2 linked regions of the Homo sapiens genome follow. The protein of the gene in region 1 interacts with the protein of each later gene in a pairwise test. Each region holds a gene or a part of one and is shown in the gene's direction. Other genes may lie near its edges.

Evidence for each region.
Region 2: the proteins of GGPS1 (region 1) and ATOX1 interact in binary tests that used the Homo sapiens proteins (3 or more experiments, as listed by UniProt).

What each region holds. Positions count from the first base shown.
Region 1 is NC_000001.11:235,324,389-235,331,629, forward strand, and holds the start of GGPS1 (geranylgeranyl pyrophosphate synthase), read left to right. Parts: upstream 1-4,181; 5' UTR 4,182-4,390; intron 4,391-4,619; exon of another isoform or gene 4,620-6,112; intron 6,113-7,241. Other genes in the region: ARID4B (AT-rich interactive domain-containing protein 4B), read right to left, coding at 2,526-2,531. UniProt on the Homo sapiens protein: Catalyzes the trans-addition of the three molecules of IPP onto DMAPP to form geranylgeranyl pyrophosphate, an important precursor of carotenoids and geranylated proteins.
Region 2 is NC_000005.10:151,755,632-151,763,101, reverse strand, and holds the start of ATOX1 (copper transport protein ATOX1), read left to right. Parts: upstream 1-4,470; 5' UTR 4,471-4,550; coding exon 4,551-4,556; intron 4,557-4,741; exon of another isoform or gene 4,742-4,813; intron 4,814-6,030; exon of another isoform or gene 6,031-6,164; intron 6,165-7,470. UniProt on the Homo sapiens protein: Binds and deliver cytosolic copper to the copper ATPase proteins. May be important in cellular antioxidant defense.

The sequences.
Region 1 (7,241 bases):
TAAATTCTTAAAGGTAGTACATGGGAAAACTGCTAAAACATACAACACTTCAACTTTAAAACAACACCTAAAAAGTATTACTACATAATCTAACTTTCAATCACCTCAATAAACTGTCACTTAATAAAATTTAAAGATTTGTTGTCGTTAATACAACAGACAATTCAAACTTAAAAGCTTGCTCCCAAGTACAAATATGTTTGGTAAGATCCAATAAATGGCATAAAACCTTCTGTAGCTCAATGATCATCGTAATACAGAAATTACACCAGGCACGGTGACTCTCGCCTGTAATCCCAGCACTTTGGGAGGCTAAGGCGGGAGAGTCACCTGAGCCCAGAAGTTCGACACCAGCCTGGGCAACACGGCAAAACCTCATCTCTACAAAAACTACAAAAATTAGCCAGGTGTGCCTGTAGTCCCAGCTACTCAGGAGGCTGAGGTGGGAGGATTATTTGAGCCCAGGAGGCAGCAGTTACAGATCGTGCCAGCCAGGGTGAAATAGTGAGACTCTATATCAAAAAGAAAAATAAAAAAGAACGAAAGAAATTGGGAACACACAGAAAAAGAAACAAAATTTAGGCCTAATACACTCAACATTAAATAGATTCTGAATTGCAATTTTTGCTAAAGCAAAATACAAATTACAAGAAGCTTCTCATCTTTTATCACATAAGAAATAAAGTTGTAAGAAATAAGCTAAGTTTTTAGTACTAATAATTACTAGCAAATTCTCTGAGATTTGCTATACTTATAATAACAGGAAGTACTTGTATGAAGTTAGAAATTTATTTTAGTAACTTTTTCCTTTTAACGTTAAAAGCACCTTTTTAAAAAATGCAGTAGAATGTAATGCTGAGCACTTAAAATTAGTATTTCTAAAAAGATACCAAAAAATTTGCATTTGGCTAGTATTACCAAGAAACTTTTAAGGCTAAAGTTTCCAACATACTTTCATTTTTTTAAACAGACTACTTAAAAAAAAAAAGGAAACGAAAGGAAGAAAAAAAACATTTTAATCTCAGACTTTCAACTTAACTACATTTCTTTTAACCAAACATTTATAGAGCACCTAAGAAGTGACAAGCACTACAACACTGGGAAATGTGACACATTACATTTACTCCAAACTAAACCTTTTATTTATTCGGCTTCTGAACTTATTATTTCTTACTCAAACCAAAACTTTTCTTAAGAAATTCTCACCCAACATCAAGGTACATATACGAGTTACCTAATAAATGCACTTTCACCACTGTTTTACACAGGTGATGAGAGTTATAGCTAGGATTTGTGACTAACAAAAGGGATTCATTCCTGAAACATGTCTATGCTTCATGAAATGAGATAGGAATAAACTGTTTCAGGTAGTTTACAGCATCCCAAACTCAAAGAGAAAACCTTAAAAAAATTAGACTAAACTTAATTACTCTGTATAGTAGACCAAGATTTAAGTAGCCACAGCTTTTACCTTCTACAACCACAAGTATTACAAATTTTAATTTGGATGCAAAATTGTCAAAGCAGTCTTGATTCTGAGGACAAGTGAAATATTTTTTTAAATAGTTCAAAGGAACTGTCAAAAGTAGACAACGTTGATATTCTAACATGCTATCTGTTGCATTTCTACACTTGTGAACACTCTACCCTTTTCAAGCACTTCTGAATTTGTAATGGATGAAAAAATACAAGCTAGTGTCTAAGTTCCACCAGTTGAATCCAGACTTTTCAAAAATCTAAGGTTTTATTCTAGCATGTGTTTAAAAAAAAAAAAGACAGCATTCATATACATATTCTCTCAAGTAACAAAAATACCTGTATTTTTATCGTTATCATTTCTTCCAACAATTAAGCAAATTTTTTGACCCTATTCTCCACTCAGTTAACATATTGACATCTAAGAGGAACCTGGCCATCAGTTTTCCACACATCATAATGCAACAGAGCCTCTGACTTATTTACAGACCAACCAGATCAATAAAGAAAAATAAACCATATAACCCCAAGTCACTGGAAATACAAGAAACAACTGGTATCTCTGAATTGTGTAAAAAATCACAAAAATTCTCTTTTTAAATCTTTCAATTAAATTATTTTTGTGACGAGTCAAAGAGTTTTCTGCTAAAATTTTACAGTACTGTTCACACAATAAATAAGATTCTCTTTCATCAGTGTAACTGATAGAACCACAATACAGTTCAGTTTCTAGGGTCAGATTACCTGACTTGCTTTTTATTTTACCTTTTAAAACACTTTAATTCATGCCGTTATTCCTCTCATTCCCTACAAAAAGAGATGTTCAATATGGGAGAATCATCTTCAGTTGAGACATCCTATAACTGCCTCCAACTCCACAGCAAAGCCCGCCAGCTGACCCCGGTCTCTCTGGGGAAGGGCTCGGTCACCAAGTCACCAAACACACCTTCCTCTGCAAAACTCGGAAGCCCCACACGACGACCTCGTCGAAACCTCCTACTTCCTGAATTCGATAACCCCAGAGATTCGTTTTCCGCAGGCAATCTTACCTTCATGATGACTCTGGGACCAAGGTATCCTCTAAAACACCAGGTTCAGCTGCACCTGGAGGGGAAACAAAAGACACCCAGTCAACACCACAGGAGCCCCTCTGCACTGGCGGAGGCGGAGGGAAAGAAGCGAGCGACGTCCGAACCCCGAAGAAAGAGCCGCAACCAGGCGCCAGCCCCCGAACCATCACACGCCGACTCGGGGCTCCCTCCGGCCCCGCCATCCCCGCAAACCCAACCACCTACACAGCTCGGCAGCTTCCCGTCCCCATTGTCGAGACCCGACGGAGTTTCCCGTCTACGACAATGACGCCATTTCTGTCAGAGAAGAAACTCACAACAAGCCCGGCGTCCGGCGCAGGGCCGGCCGCTCTCCCCTAGGGCCTCGGCGCCCGGCCGAGCGAATCCGCGCCCCCACGCGCCGCGTCCGAGCGAGAGGCCGGCCGGGGGCCACCGAGGGGCCAGGAGGGCCTGTGGGCCGCGGGCAGGACCGGCCCGCCACAGAGCCCCTGCCCACGTCCCGTTCCGGGCTCAGACCCGACAAGTGGGAGCGAGATCAACATCTGGCCCCGCCGCGGGGACAACGTGAGGGCCGAGGGCCCCGGAGGCGGAACGGCCCCCACCCTGCCCGGGCCCCCGACCGCGGCCGCTAAACCGCTGAGTGTGCGGCCGCCCAGCCAGGGGGCGGCTCGGACACAGCGGCTGCGGGGGGTGGGGGTTCCCGGGAGGCCGAGGCCCCGAATTCGGGCGCCGCAGGGACCACCACCGCGATCTTCCTCTGCTCCTTGGCCGGGCCCAGCGACTCCCAAAAGAACCCCCTTAGGAGACCACGAAAGCCCCAGAAAATATCCCTACCTTCCTCGGAGGCGAGATCTGACCCTGGCACGTCCAGAGTCCCCTCTCTCCTTCTCCCCCCCAAAACCAGCAGGCCCGGGGGAGAGATGGGGAAGAAGGGCGGCGGGTCCAGCGGCTGCTGAGGCAGAGGCTCCGGCTCCTCCTCCTCCCGCGGCGGCGACTGGTACCTTTGTTTGGCGGCCGCTCGGGCTCCCTGGTTGGGGGGAGGGGGACGACGAAAAATCCCCCCCGGACTGGAGGTCCGGGCCCCCAATCGCGCTGCCCTCCAGAGGACGGCGGCGATGGACCCTCTGCAGCTCCCTCCGGGCAAAGGTCCAGGCGGTGGCCGTGGCGGCGGCAAGATGAAGCTCAAGAGTCTCCCTCCGCTTCGGCGACCGAGCTCCTCACTCCGGACTCGACTGACGGGCAAACATCGCTTCCCCCCCACCGACTCTAGGTTCCCCCCCTTTCTCCCCTCCCCTAGATTTTTTTTCCCCCCCTCCCCTACCTCTTTCCCGGATGGCCTCTTAGACGACCTTGGATTGGTTAAAGTTCTTTAGAACCCGCCTATACACTGTTCCTATTGGTCCCTGGATACAAACAACGACGCCATTTTCCCACCAGTTCTATGGAAACAGAAAGTTACGCCTCAAGGCTTTCTGGGAAATAAAGTCCATACTCTGGGGCCAACGCGCAAATCCTCGTCCGCGAGAACTGCAAGGCCCGCAATGCCCTGCGCCTGCGTGGACCGGTGCGGGGGCGGGGGGGAGGTGAAAGGGGCGGGGCAACAAAGCAGTAGGGAGGCGGCAACGACGCCTGCGCAGTGTGACCGGGATGGCGCATTTTCTTGCACCAACTAATGCGGTGTCGCTGGCGGCTGAGGAGGGCGGAGAGTTCTGTGGTGAAATAGTGGGAAGGATTCATGTAGGCATCGGGAAGAGCCTAAGTCCACATTATAAAATAGGAAGTTGATGCGGGGTACAGTTACTCCCGGACCGGCGGCGTGAAAGTCGTGATATCATCGTTGAACTGTGAGCGGCAGTGGCGGCGGCTGGGGGGAACCCGGATGGGAAGAAGGGCGGGGGAGGCTGGGAGGCGGGGCAGAGGAAAGAAAGAAAGGAGAGTGAGGACCCGGATGCTGAACCGGATTGTGTATGAATTTTCCATCCCCTAGCTTTAAGCGAGGAGGGAGAGGAAGGGTTGGCCAAGTGGGGCGGAAGGGAGCATCTGAGCGAGGAGGAAGCAGAAACCTCACCGTTTCTTCCCCTCCGGACTCTGTGCTAGCACTGTATACGTTTGCAGTTCTCTGCCCAGCCGCTGTGGAAAATCGGCCTCGAAGTGATTGAAATTCCCTGTTTATATCAGGCGGCTTCTTTCAGATCCATCGTCTTTCTCCCGGAGTATGAATGGAAGGATTCAGTATGCGCTTCACATTTGTATGTCTCTGGCCATTCTCAAACCAGGCCCTTCCCTTTGAAAAGTCTTTTGCATGGGATGTTCACTTCTTAGACGCAAGGTTGTGTGCCCTGGTTTCATCGTCTAACGCGTTAGAAGGCGCTTTCATTTCTTCATGGGTGTTGAGCGCCGACCACTGGGGTGGCCTCTGCCTTCGTAGACCTGCGCCTGGTGAGACGGACAGATGCTGAACAAAACGATGTGAAATTACCGCAGTGGCAGTGCCCCAGAGGAGAGTTCCACGGTGATAGGAGAATGAGGGAATTTGGCTTCTTTAGGGAGGGAAAGGAAGGGTTTCTGAGCAAGTGAGGATCGAGCTGAGAGCTGAAGGGCTAGCAGGAGTTAACTAAGGAAAGAGAAAAGGAAAAGACATTCCAGACAAAAAGACTAACTTGTCAGAAAGCCCTGTGGCGGAAGGGAGCTTTTCCAATATGAAGAACTGAGCCTGGAGAGATGGGATGAGGGGGAGTGTCGAACCTTTTAGGCTTTGTAAAGGAGTTTTGGTTTTCTCCTAATAGCAATGGGATATCTTCCAAGGAATCTCAATCAAAAGGGAGAGATGGCTCCGATTGGAATGTCATCCCTGGCTGAAGAGTAGAGGAAGCGAAAAAAAGAAGAGTTAAAGAGGCAAATGCAGGGAACCCGACGAGGAGGCTATTGCCGTAGTAGTTCACATGGTGAAAAGAATGGAGCGTTTGTATTAATGATTATGGATTCACTCTTTGAACAAATTTCTGGCAGCTTTTTAGTTTTGAAAGTGAGAAGTTTCAGACTCTCACTGAGGTATTCTGTAGTTTTTTCACTCTAAAAGGAAACTAGTAGAGTTCATGTAACACACACTAATGCCTCTTTACATTTAACTTTAGTATGTGATAGCTGAAATTTCCAGCTGTGATAAATTGGGAAATCCTTTGATTTAAAAGAAAAACAAAGGCGGGTGAGGGTGAGAGTATATGCCACGGTGTGTAGAATCCTTTAGACTCTTAAGAAGACACAAGGCGGCTGGGCGTGGTGGCTCACGCTTGTAATCCCAGCACTTTGGGAGGCCGAGGCGGGCGGATCACGAGGTCAGGAGATCGAGACCATCCTGGCTAACACGGTGAAAGCCCGTCTCTACTAAAAATACAAAAAAATTAGCCGGGCAAGGTGGCGGGCGCCTGTAGTCCCAGCTACTCGGGAGGCTGAGGCAGGAGAATGGCGTGAACCCGGGAGGCGGAGTTTGCAGTGAGACGAGATCACGCCACTGCACTCCAGCCTGGGCGACAGAGTGAGACGCTGTTTCAGAAGAAAGACACAAGGCAAGTTGGTTGTCGATACCTGGAAAAATTGAAGTTCTTATGTTTTCATACCACTGAAAATGCTTGTATGTAAATATCCTCTGGGACAGGAAATTGACTTAAGTGAGTATTCTTAAACATCTCTAAGTGAGGAAAGGAAATATTTTTTAAAGCATAATTAGTGTTTTAAGTTGAAAAATAACATCAACCACAAAGCTCTACGAATTGAAACAAAGATTAGCTCTGATTTCTGTGCAACAGGGTACACCTGTTACAGGTCCTGACACAAAAGGGAATTCTGAAAGTGCATCTCATTGATTTTTAAGTTCGGTCAAATGTGTTTTGGAGGCTGTGAGAAAATATACAAACGTGATTCTTGCTCCCAACTTGTAGTTGAGAAAAGATAGATACTAACATTTAAATAGAGAAGTATATGAGATCCTTTTTTAATTCTACTTTTAATGATGTTCGATAATAATCTTTTAGCTAAGCCATTATTCTTCCTGTTTTGCATCTTCTTTTCTTACTTCAATCCCTGATAATAAGGTCACGTGTCAGAGATCAAATAGTATAGGTAATAGGTTACCTAAATAGGTATTTGCATAATAGGTTACCTAACTAAATAGGTTTTTGCCTAATAGGTATGTTGATTATTTCGCTTACTTGATTCTTTATGAGCCTTTTTTTCCTTGCGACGTCTTTGGTATTAATTGTTAGTCAAGATGGATGTAGAAATTTTCCATATGGGATGTTTCTCTTTGAATTCATGTTGTTAAAATGATTTCTTTTGGTGGAGTGCTGATCTTTTTTATGATTGTTTCATATAGATAAGAACAGACTACAAAAAAATATGCCTTTCAATCCTGAAGAGTAACCTGAACTATACACTAGTTTTGTGCTTTAATTTTCATTTGTAATCTGCCTTCAATAAAGAGTTAAGCTAGTGGAATTTATGTCTTAGCTTGTTATAACACAAACACGAATATTTGTCTGCTTGGCATTAAAGGGTAAAGATATTCCATAGCTGGGAATCTTAATCTGAGGTACGTGTAAACATTCAGGGACTATATGATCTCTGAGAATTTGTATGTTGTAAGTCTTTGTGGCAGTGTATACATTTGTGTTGCAACTTATTAACACATACACCGGG
Region 2 (7,470 bases), on another chromosome or scaffold:
TAATACTATCACATTGGCAATTAGGTTTCAACATACGAATTTTGGTGGGACACTTTCAGATCAGTGCCATTCTATATGGTGACTCTTCCTCAAACCAGGTGCTTGAGCAAAACCAATTTGCACAGAGCCACTCCTCCAGCTTCAACCCACTCAGCCAGTTATGGGCATATCACAGGAGAGATAAATCTTCGTCATTTTAAGCCATTGAGGCTTTGGGATTGTTTGTTACTACAATATTACTTGGCCTATCCTGTCAGTCATAGACATGTTTCCAGATCTTTCAGTTTTTCAGGAAATATTAAAACTCTAGGTTATGTGACTCAATGTTCTTTTTTTAAAACATTTACTGATAGTACGAAAACTTTTGGTCTTGCCTAAAAAATACAATGGAAATATTCTGAGGACTTTAACTGAATAGGTTTCACCCTTTTTATTATCATTATTATTATTGAGACAGAGTTTCGCTCTGTTGCCCAGGCTTGAGTGCAGTGGCGCGATCTCGGCTCACTGCAACCTCCACCTCCGGGGTTCAAGCGATTCTCCTGCCTCAGCCTCCCAAGTAGCTGGGACTACAGGCACCCACCACAATGCCCAGCTAATTTTTGTACTTTTAGTAGAGACGGGGTTTCGCCATGTTGGCCAGGTTGGTCTTGAACTCCTGACCTCAAGTAATCTGCCTGCCTCTGCCTCCCAAAGTGCTGGGATTACAGGCGTGAGCCACTGCACCCGCCCATCACCCTTTTTAAAAACTTATTTAGGCCAGGTGCGGTGGTTCACGCCTGTAATCCCAGCACTTTGAGAGGCCGAGGCAGGAGGATTGCTTATGAGAGCAACCTGATCAACATGCCAAGACCCCATCTCTACAAAAACATACAAAAAAATAGCTGGGTGTGGGGACATGCACCTGTGGTCCCAGCTACTCAGGAGGCTGAGGTCAGGGGATCCCTTGAGCCCAGGAGGTCACAGCTGCAGTGTGCCATGTTCACGCTACTGCACTCCAGCCTAGGTGACACAGCAAGACCCTGTCTCAAAAAATAAAAATTAAAAACTATTTAGAATTTTTATTTTTAAAAATGCTTTTCCTAGTCTTGTAATAAGAAAGCAACTAATTTTACATGTCAGTCTAGAAATAAATAAATTTATTTATTTATTTTTATTTTGAGACAGGGTCTTGCTCTGTCACACAGGCTGGAGTGTGGTGGCACGATCACGGCTCAGTGCAGCCTTGACCTCCTGGGCTCAAGTGATCTTCCCACCTCCGCCTCCCAAGTAGCTGGGACTACAGGTGCACAACACCATGTCCAACTAATTTTTAAATTTTTTGTAGAGACAAAATCTCGCTATATTGCCAGGCTGGACTTGAAGCAATTCTCCTGCCTGGGACTCCTAAAGTGTTGGGATTACAAGCATGAGCCACCATGCCCTATTTTTAATTGTGGTAAAACATACAGAACATAAAATTCCTCTTTCTAACCATTTTTAAGTGTATAATTCAGTGGCATTAAATATATTCACAATGTTGTACAAGCATACTCAGAGTTCTTAACTGTTGTCAACTAATCAAAAAATATTTTGAATACTTTAGGGACTGAATAAAATGTGTCTGTAGACCCAGTTCTGCCAGCATGTGGCTCTGCAGGACACCATGCTCCCTCTCCCAAGCCTGCAGTCCACGCTCCCTCAGCTTCCACTTCATAGCCCTTCTCTTCTCATGCATGCCTTGGCTGCTCTGAGGGCCCTTTCAGCTCAGAATCTTTGGTCCCAGATAAAGGGTCCGTTGGTGGATAAAGCAGTGAGGCAAGTGGTGTATACCTGTGTTATGATACAAAAAACAGACACTTGGTTTCCTGCGGTGGGGATATCGGGGAGCAGGCAGCAGCTACAAAACCTTTCTTTGCAAAGAATTAAACTCCTCAGCATCTGTCAAAGAAAGGGTCATCCCAGGAGGCTGGGTCTAGAAGTAGATTACACCAGGAAGAACCCACCATCTATACATGCCTACAGTGTGCACATTCCTATCCTTGCAACAACACTTTCAGCCAGAAAGCAGGGATTCTATATGCCCATTTCCCAGGCTCACTGGCTTAGTGATGGCTCATTGCCTGTAATCCCAGCACTTTGGGAGGCCAAAGTGGGCAGATCACGAGGTCAGGAATTCGAGACCAGCCTGGCCAACATGGTGAAACTCTGTCTCTACTAAAAATACTAAAAATACAAAAATTAGCCGGGCATGGTGGTGGGCGCCTATAATCCCAGCTACTTGGGAGGCTGAGGCAGGAGAGTTGCTTGAACCCAGGAGGCGGACGTTGCAGTGAGCCAAGATCACGTCACTGCACTCCAGCCTGGGCGACAGAGCAAGACTCCATCTCGGGGAAAAAAAAAAAAAAAGCTAAGAAAGAAAAGGGTTGATATGTACTATTAAGGAATAATCTTTTTTTTTTTTTTTTTTTAAATACAGGGTCATATTCTGTCACCCAGGCTGGAGTGCAGTGGTGTACTTATGGCTCAATGCAGCCTTGACCTCCTGAGCTCAAGTGATGCTCCCACCTCAGTCTCCTGAGTAGCTGGGACCACAGGCATATGCCACCACACCCGGCTAATTTTTGTATTTTTTGTAGAGCCAGGGTTTCACCATGTTTCTTAGTCTGGTCTCAAACTCCTGGGCTCAAGTGATCCTCCCACTTAGGCCTCTCAAAGCAATGCGATTACAGGTATGAGCCACTGCATCTGGCCCAGGAATAATCTCTAAGATATTTTATAAAGTGAGAAAAGCAGGATGCAAAACTGTGTATACTATGCCTTTTGTTTAAGAAGGAGAGGTCAGGGTAGGAGGAAGACCTACTTTTCACTGTACGCTACTTTGTGTTATTTGAAAATTAAACAGTAGGTACATTGGGATTCCACCTGCAAATCCTACACTTATCCAAGATAACTTCTAGTAACATTGGCTGTGGTTCATTTCATGCTTATTTTAATGTAAATACACGGAATGTATGTATATATTTATGCAGGAACTACAGTCTGGCATATTTTCTTCTCCTCTTTAATAGGTCTTTATTTGTGATCTTTAACAGATCTTTATAAAGCTGTCTTCTCTTTAAATTGCTGTCTCTAGGCTTAGCCATCCCCCCAACCCATACCCCTAATTCTCTAAAACATGCCGTGGGTGGTTCGCCCTGTGTACTGTTGCTTTGGGAAGGATTTCCTTCCCTCATGTCCACTCTCCGCCTTCCCTCATGGCAATCTAGCTATCCCTAGCCCCAGGGCACAGTTGTACCCAGGACTACCAAGATGCTAAGCCTTGCCCGTACAGGACCTAATGTGCCAGTACCCTCTTTCCCTCTCCTCCTCGCCCCCTTCCCTTCCATCTTTAGGGAATTCCTGGCAGGTTGGGTAGGGGATGAATGGTTAAGGGGTATTTTGTGAGCAGCGGAAGACCCAGTGCCAGGGAGGCCAACAGAGGGCCTAGCAATTAGAGAATACTTATATATATTTTTGGTGCCTACCATGTGCCAAGCAATGTATTAAGAAGTTTGCACACATTACATGTATTCCAACAATACTGCAAAGTAGGTTTCTTGGAGGGAACCATGTGTCGTTGTTTGCCTGAAACAGTCATGGTGTTTGCCTGTTGTCCTGGCAAAATTATTAATAGCATCTCCTTTCTCTAGCAAAAGGTTCAGATAAAAAATTGTATAGTGACCTTAACTGTCCCCATCTTATACGTGAGGATATTGAGGCTTAGAGAGGTAAGTTCATCTGCCCAGGGTCACATGGCTAATAAATGATAGGGCTGAGATTAAAACTCTAGTCAGTATGGCTCTGCTAGGGACTGAACTCTGACATGGACATGAATTGTGTCCCCGCAAATTCCTATGTTGATACCCTAACCCCCAATGCGACTGTATTTAGAGACAAAGCCTGTAACAGGGCGATAAAGGCTAACCGAGGTCCAGATTATTGCCTTCTCCCCAGGCCGCCTCTCTTCCACAACCGCCCCCACCCCACTGCAGTCAGGGCCCTTCCTCCTCTGTCACAACAGCTCTGCTAACCCTGCACTATCACTGCCTGCGTCCTTCGCAGCCTCCTGCTGCTGCTCTTCCACCGCTGCGTCCTCGTTGGCTGGCGCTTAATAAAAATTGACTCGGTGAATAAATGAGTGAAACTGTCCTTTTAGGGATGGATGGATGATGTCCTGTTCAAGGCGGTGCCCTTCTCTGGCATTCCCTAACACAAGCTTGACCCGAAGTAGGCGTTCTGAAAAAGGCCGACAGTCGATGGAGGCCAACGCAGCGCCCCTCTCACCTCCTCTCTCCGTCCAGGCCGGGTGACCACGGGCCCGGCCCGCAGAAAGGAGGCGGCGCGGCCGGCAGGGATCAGGACTGGAGGGGGCGGAGCCTCCCTCGCGGCCGGGCCCGGAGTGGGAGGGGCCTCCGGGACCAGGCCTCTAGTGCGCACTCTCGGAAGCGCAGCCGAACCCGCCCTCCGAATCCAGAGAGGCGCTGCTGACACCGCCGCCACACCGCCGCCACACCGCCGCTGCCTCAGTCATGCCGGTGAGTGGTTGCGCCGTCCCCGCCACGCAGACTTGCAGTCCCGGGTTGCTTCTCGGCTGCACAGCCGCTTGACCGGATGCTGATCTTGAAGGGCTCAGGCGGCGGCCGGAGCCGCTGTTGTCCCCTAGCTTACCCCACCCAGCCCCCAGCTTTTGCGACCCTTCAGAAAATGGGATCCGAAGGGAGTTTAATCTGGGAGCCAGGCTTCAAAACGTCGGAGCTGGAAGGCCTCCAGGGGCGACAAGCCCACACCTTCCCTGCGTACACAGAGAAACAGAACCAGAGAGGGGGCAGGGGATGGGGGAGTTGGTGGCCAGCGGGAACTGAGACGCCTAGTCCCTGAGCCTTCCTCCTGGCTGCCCTGCCCGCGGAGCTGGCCTGAAGGAGGGCGGTGGGGAGGCTCTGGACAAGGGAGTGGACCCGGTTATTTCCTCACGGACCGGGCAGGTTTTCAGAGGTTCATGCTTTTCTTAATTTCCCTGCCCACTCTGGCCTACTTTTCAGATCAACTCTGGGCGACACTGAATGGAGACACTTTCTCAGCCTGAACCCATGAGCCCCAGAGAGGTTCAGGAACCCCCCCGCACAGTCACCAGTTGCTCAGTGGCTGTGTCTGGGAAGTCAGTCTTAGCCTGCCTTTGCAGATCACTCAGTCTTATCACATATATTGTTGCTCGTGGCCTCGTTTTTTATATAAAGAATTGAGGCCTTTGGCAGATAAAAATATAAAAAGCCCAGTAACTTATTCCAGGTCGTGTTGAAGTTGGCAGAGCCAGGATTCAGCTCCTTATCCTTAGGCTCCCCATCTCTCCAGGCCTGACCACATGGGAGGTGCCAGGCAAAAGCAGTCACACCGGCTTGGGAAGATGCTCTGATCTCAGTTGCATCTTGGTTAGGGTCATGTGGTGTTTAGCATTTTCTTCAGGGTGCCTAATTCATGGCTCTGGGCCAGGTGGATACCCAGAGGTATCCCACAGTTGCCATGTGTCTTTGCATCCTGTCTTTAGGGAGCTGGCAGGTGAGCCTGAGGCCTCCTGGGCAGAGCCACTGACATCTCAGGTGTCATTTCCTGTGGGTCTTGCCAGGTGCCTTGAGACAAATCCTCCAACAACAAAGTATGGATAAGGAATCTGATAGAATCAGCCCTACCAGTTGGGCAAGTCAGCCTGTGGCAATGGTAGAAGACAGTATTAATTGCCCTGGGGCTTGGGGAGTGAAGGCCACCAGGATTTTTTGTGGGGGGTGGCAATGAGGAAAAGGCTAGCTTGATCATCACTGTATTCTGTATCTTCTGGGGATTTTGACAAAAAACCCTCTGGAGCAGATGATGGGAATGAGGAGGGCACTTGGCACCATGTACCACAAGATAACAGCTGAAGGAAAGAGGGTGTTAGTCAAGGGATTTCCTCAAAACTGGAAAGGGAAGAAAAAAATATATCTATATACACATACTGGAAGGGGAAGAGTGTGTTACCTGAGAGTTTTCTCAGACAAATGCCCGAGAGCACAGGGTTTGGAATCCCAGAAACCTCTGAAAATCTGTGCCCCAGCTTGCCAACTGGGTGACCTCAGGCAAGTTGCTTTATCTCACTGCCTTGATTTCCTCATCTGTAAGATAGGGACAAAAACTTTGACCTCACAGGACTGTTGTTAGTATTAACTGGAAAAATGCCAGTAAAATATGTCACACAGCCACTGATATATCTAGTCCCCAAGAAATGGTAGCTCCTGTGTAGACGTAGGACAGGTGGGCTAGAGCTATAGGCAGGTGAGGCCGGGCATGGTGGCTCACGCCTGTAATCCCAGCACTTTGGGAGGCCCAGGCGGGCAGATCACTTTAATGCAGGAGCTTGAGACCAACTTTGGCAACATGATGAAACCCTGGCTCTACAAAAAATACAAAAAATTAGCCAGACGTGGTGGCCCGTGCCTATAGTCCCAGCTACTTGGGAGGCTGAAGTGGGAGGATTGCTGGAGCCTGGGAGGTTGAGGCTGCAGTGAGCCGTGATCGTGCCACTGCATTCCAGCTTGGGTGACAGAGTGAAAGTGAAACCCTGTCTCAAAAGAAAAAAAAAAAAGGAAGGAAGGAGAGAGAAAGAAAAGAAAGAAAGAAAGAAGAGAAGAGAAGAGAAAACTATAGGCAGGCAGCTTTCAATCCCATTTTAACAAGATCTCAGTGGTTAAGCATTGAGGTTTTAGAGGCTGACTATGTTCAATTCAGGCCCTACTCAGCCGAATCACCGTGAGTGTGTGAACTAACCCCTAAATCTCAGTTTCCTCATCTGTCAAGAAGGGATAATAATAGGCCAGGTGCGGCGGGTAATGCCTGTAATCCCAGCACTTTGGGAGGCTAAGGCAGGCAGATCACAAAGTCAGGACTTTGAGACCAGCCTGGCCAACATGGTGAAACCCCGTCTCTACTAAATATACAAAAAAATTAGCCGGGCATGGTGGCGGACGCCTGTAGTCCCAGCTACTCGGGAGTCTGAGGCAGGAGAATCGCTTGAACCCAGGAGGCGGAGGTTGCAGTGAGCTGAGATCGTGCCACTGCACTGCAGCCTGGGTGACACTGTGAGACTCAGTCTCAAAAAAAAAAAAAAAAAAAAAGAATCATCCCACTTACTGACTTTAAAAACCTACTTTAAACCTACTGGCTTTTAAAATCTACCCATTTTATAAGTCTTTATAAAAGACCCCAGAGGCCATGAGGAACCAGAACTACCCAGTTATGCATCTGGTGGTAGAGCCAATCTTGAGATTCTCCTATAAAGAAGTGATTACTCTGTCCATGAAATAGATTTTCCATCACCCTCAAATTTATTTTTGCCCCTCAGAGGTGGAGGAGGAGAGCACTGAACTGTAATGTTTATACCCAGAAGCTGGTTTCTGGCTTCTGACCTTTATACTGTGGGGG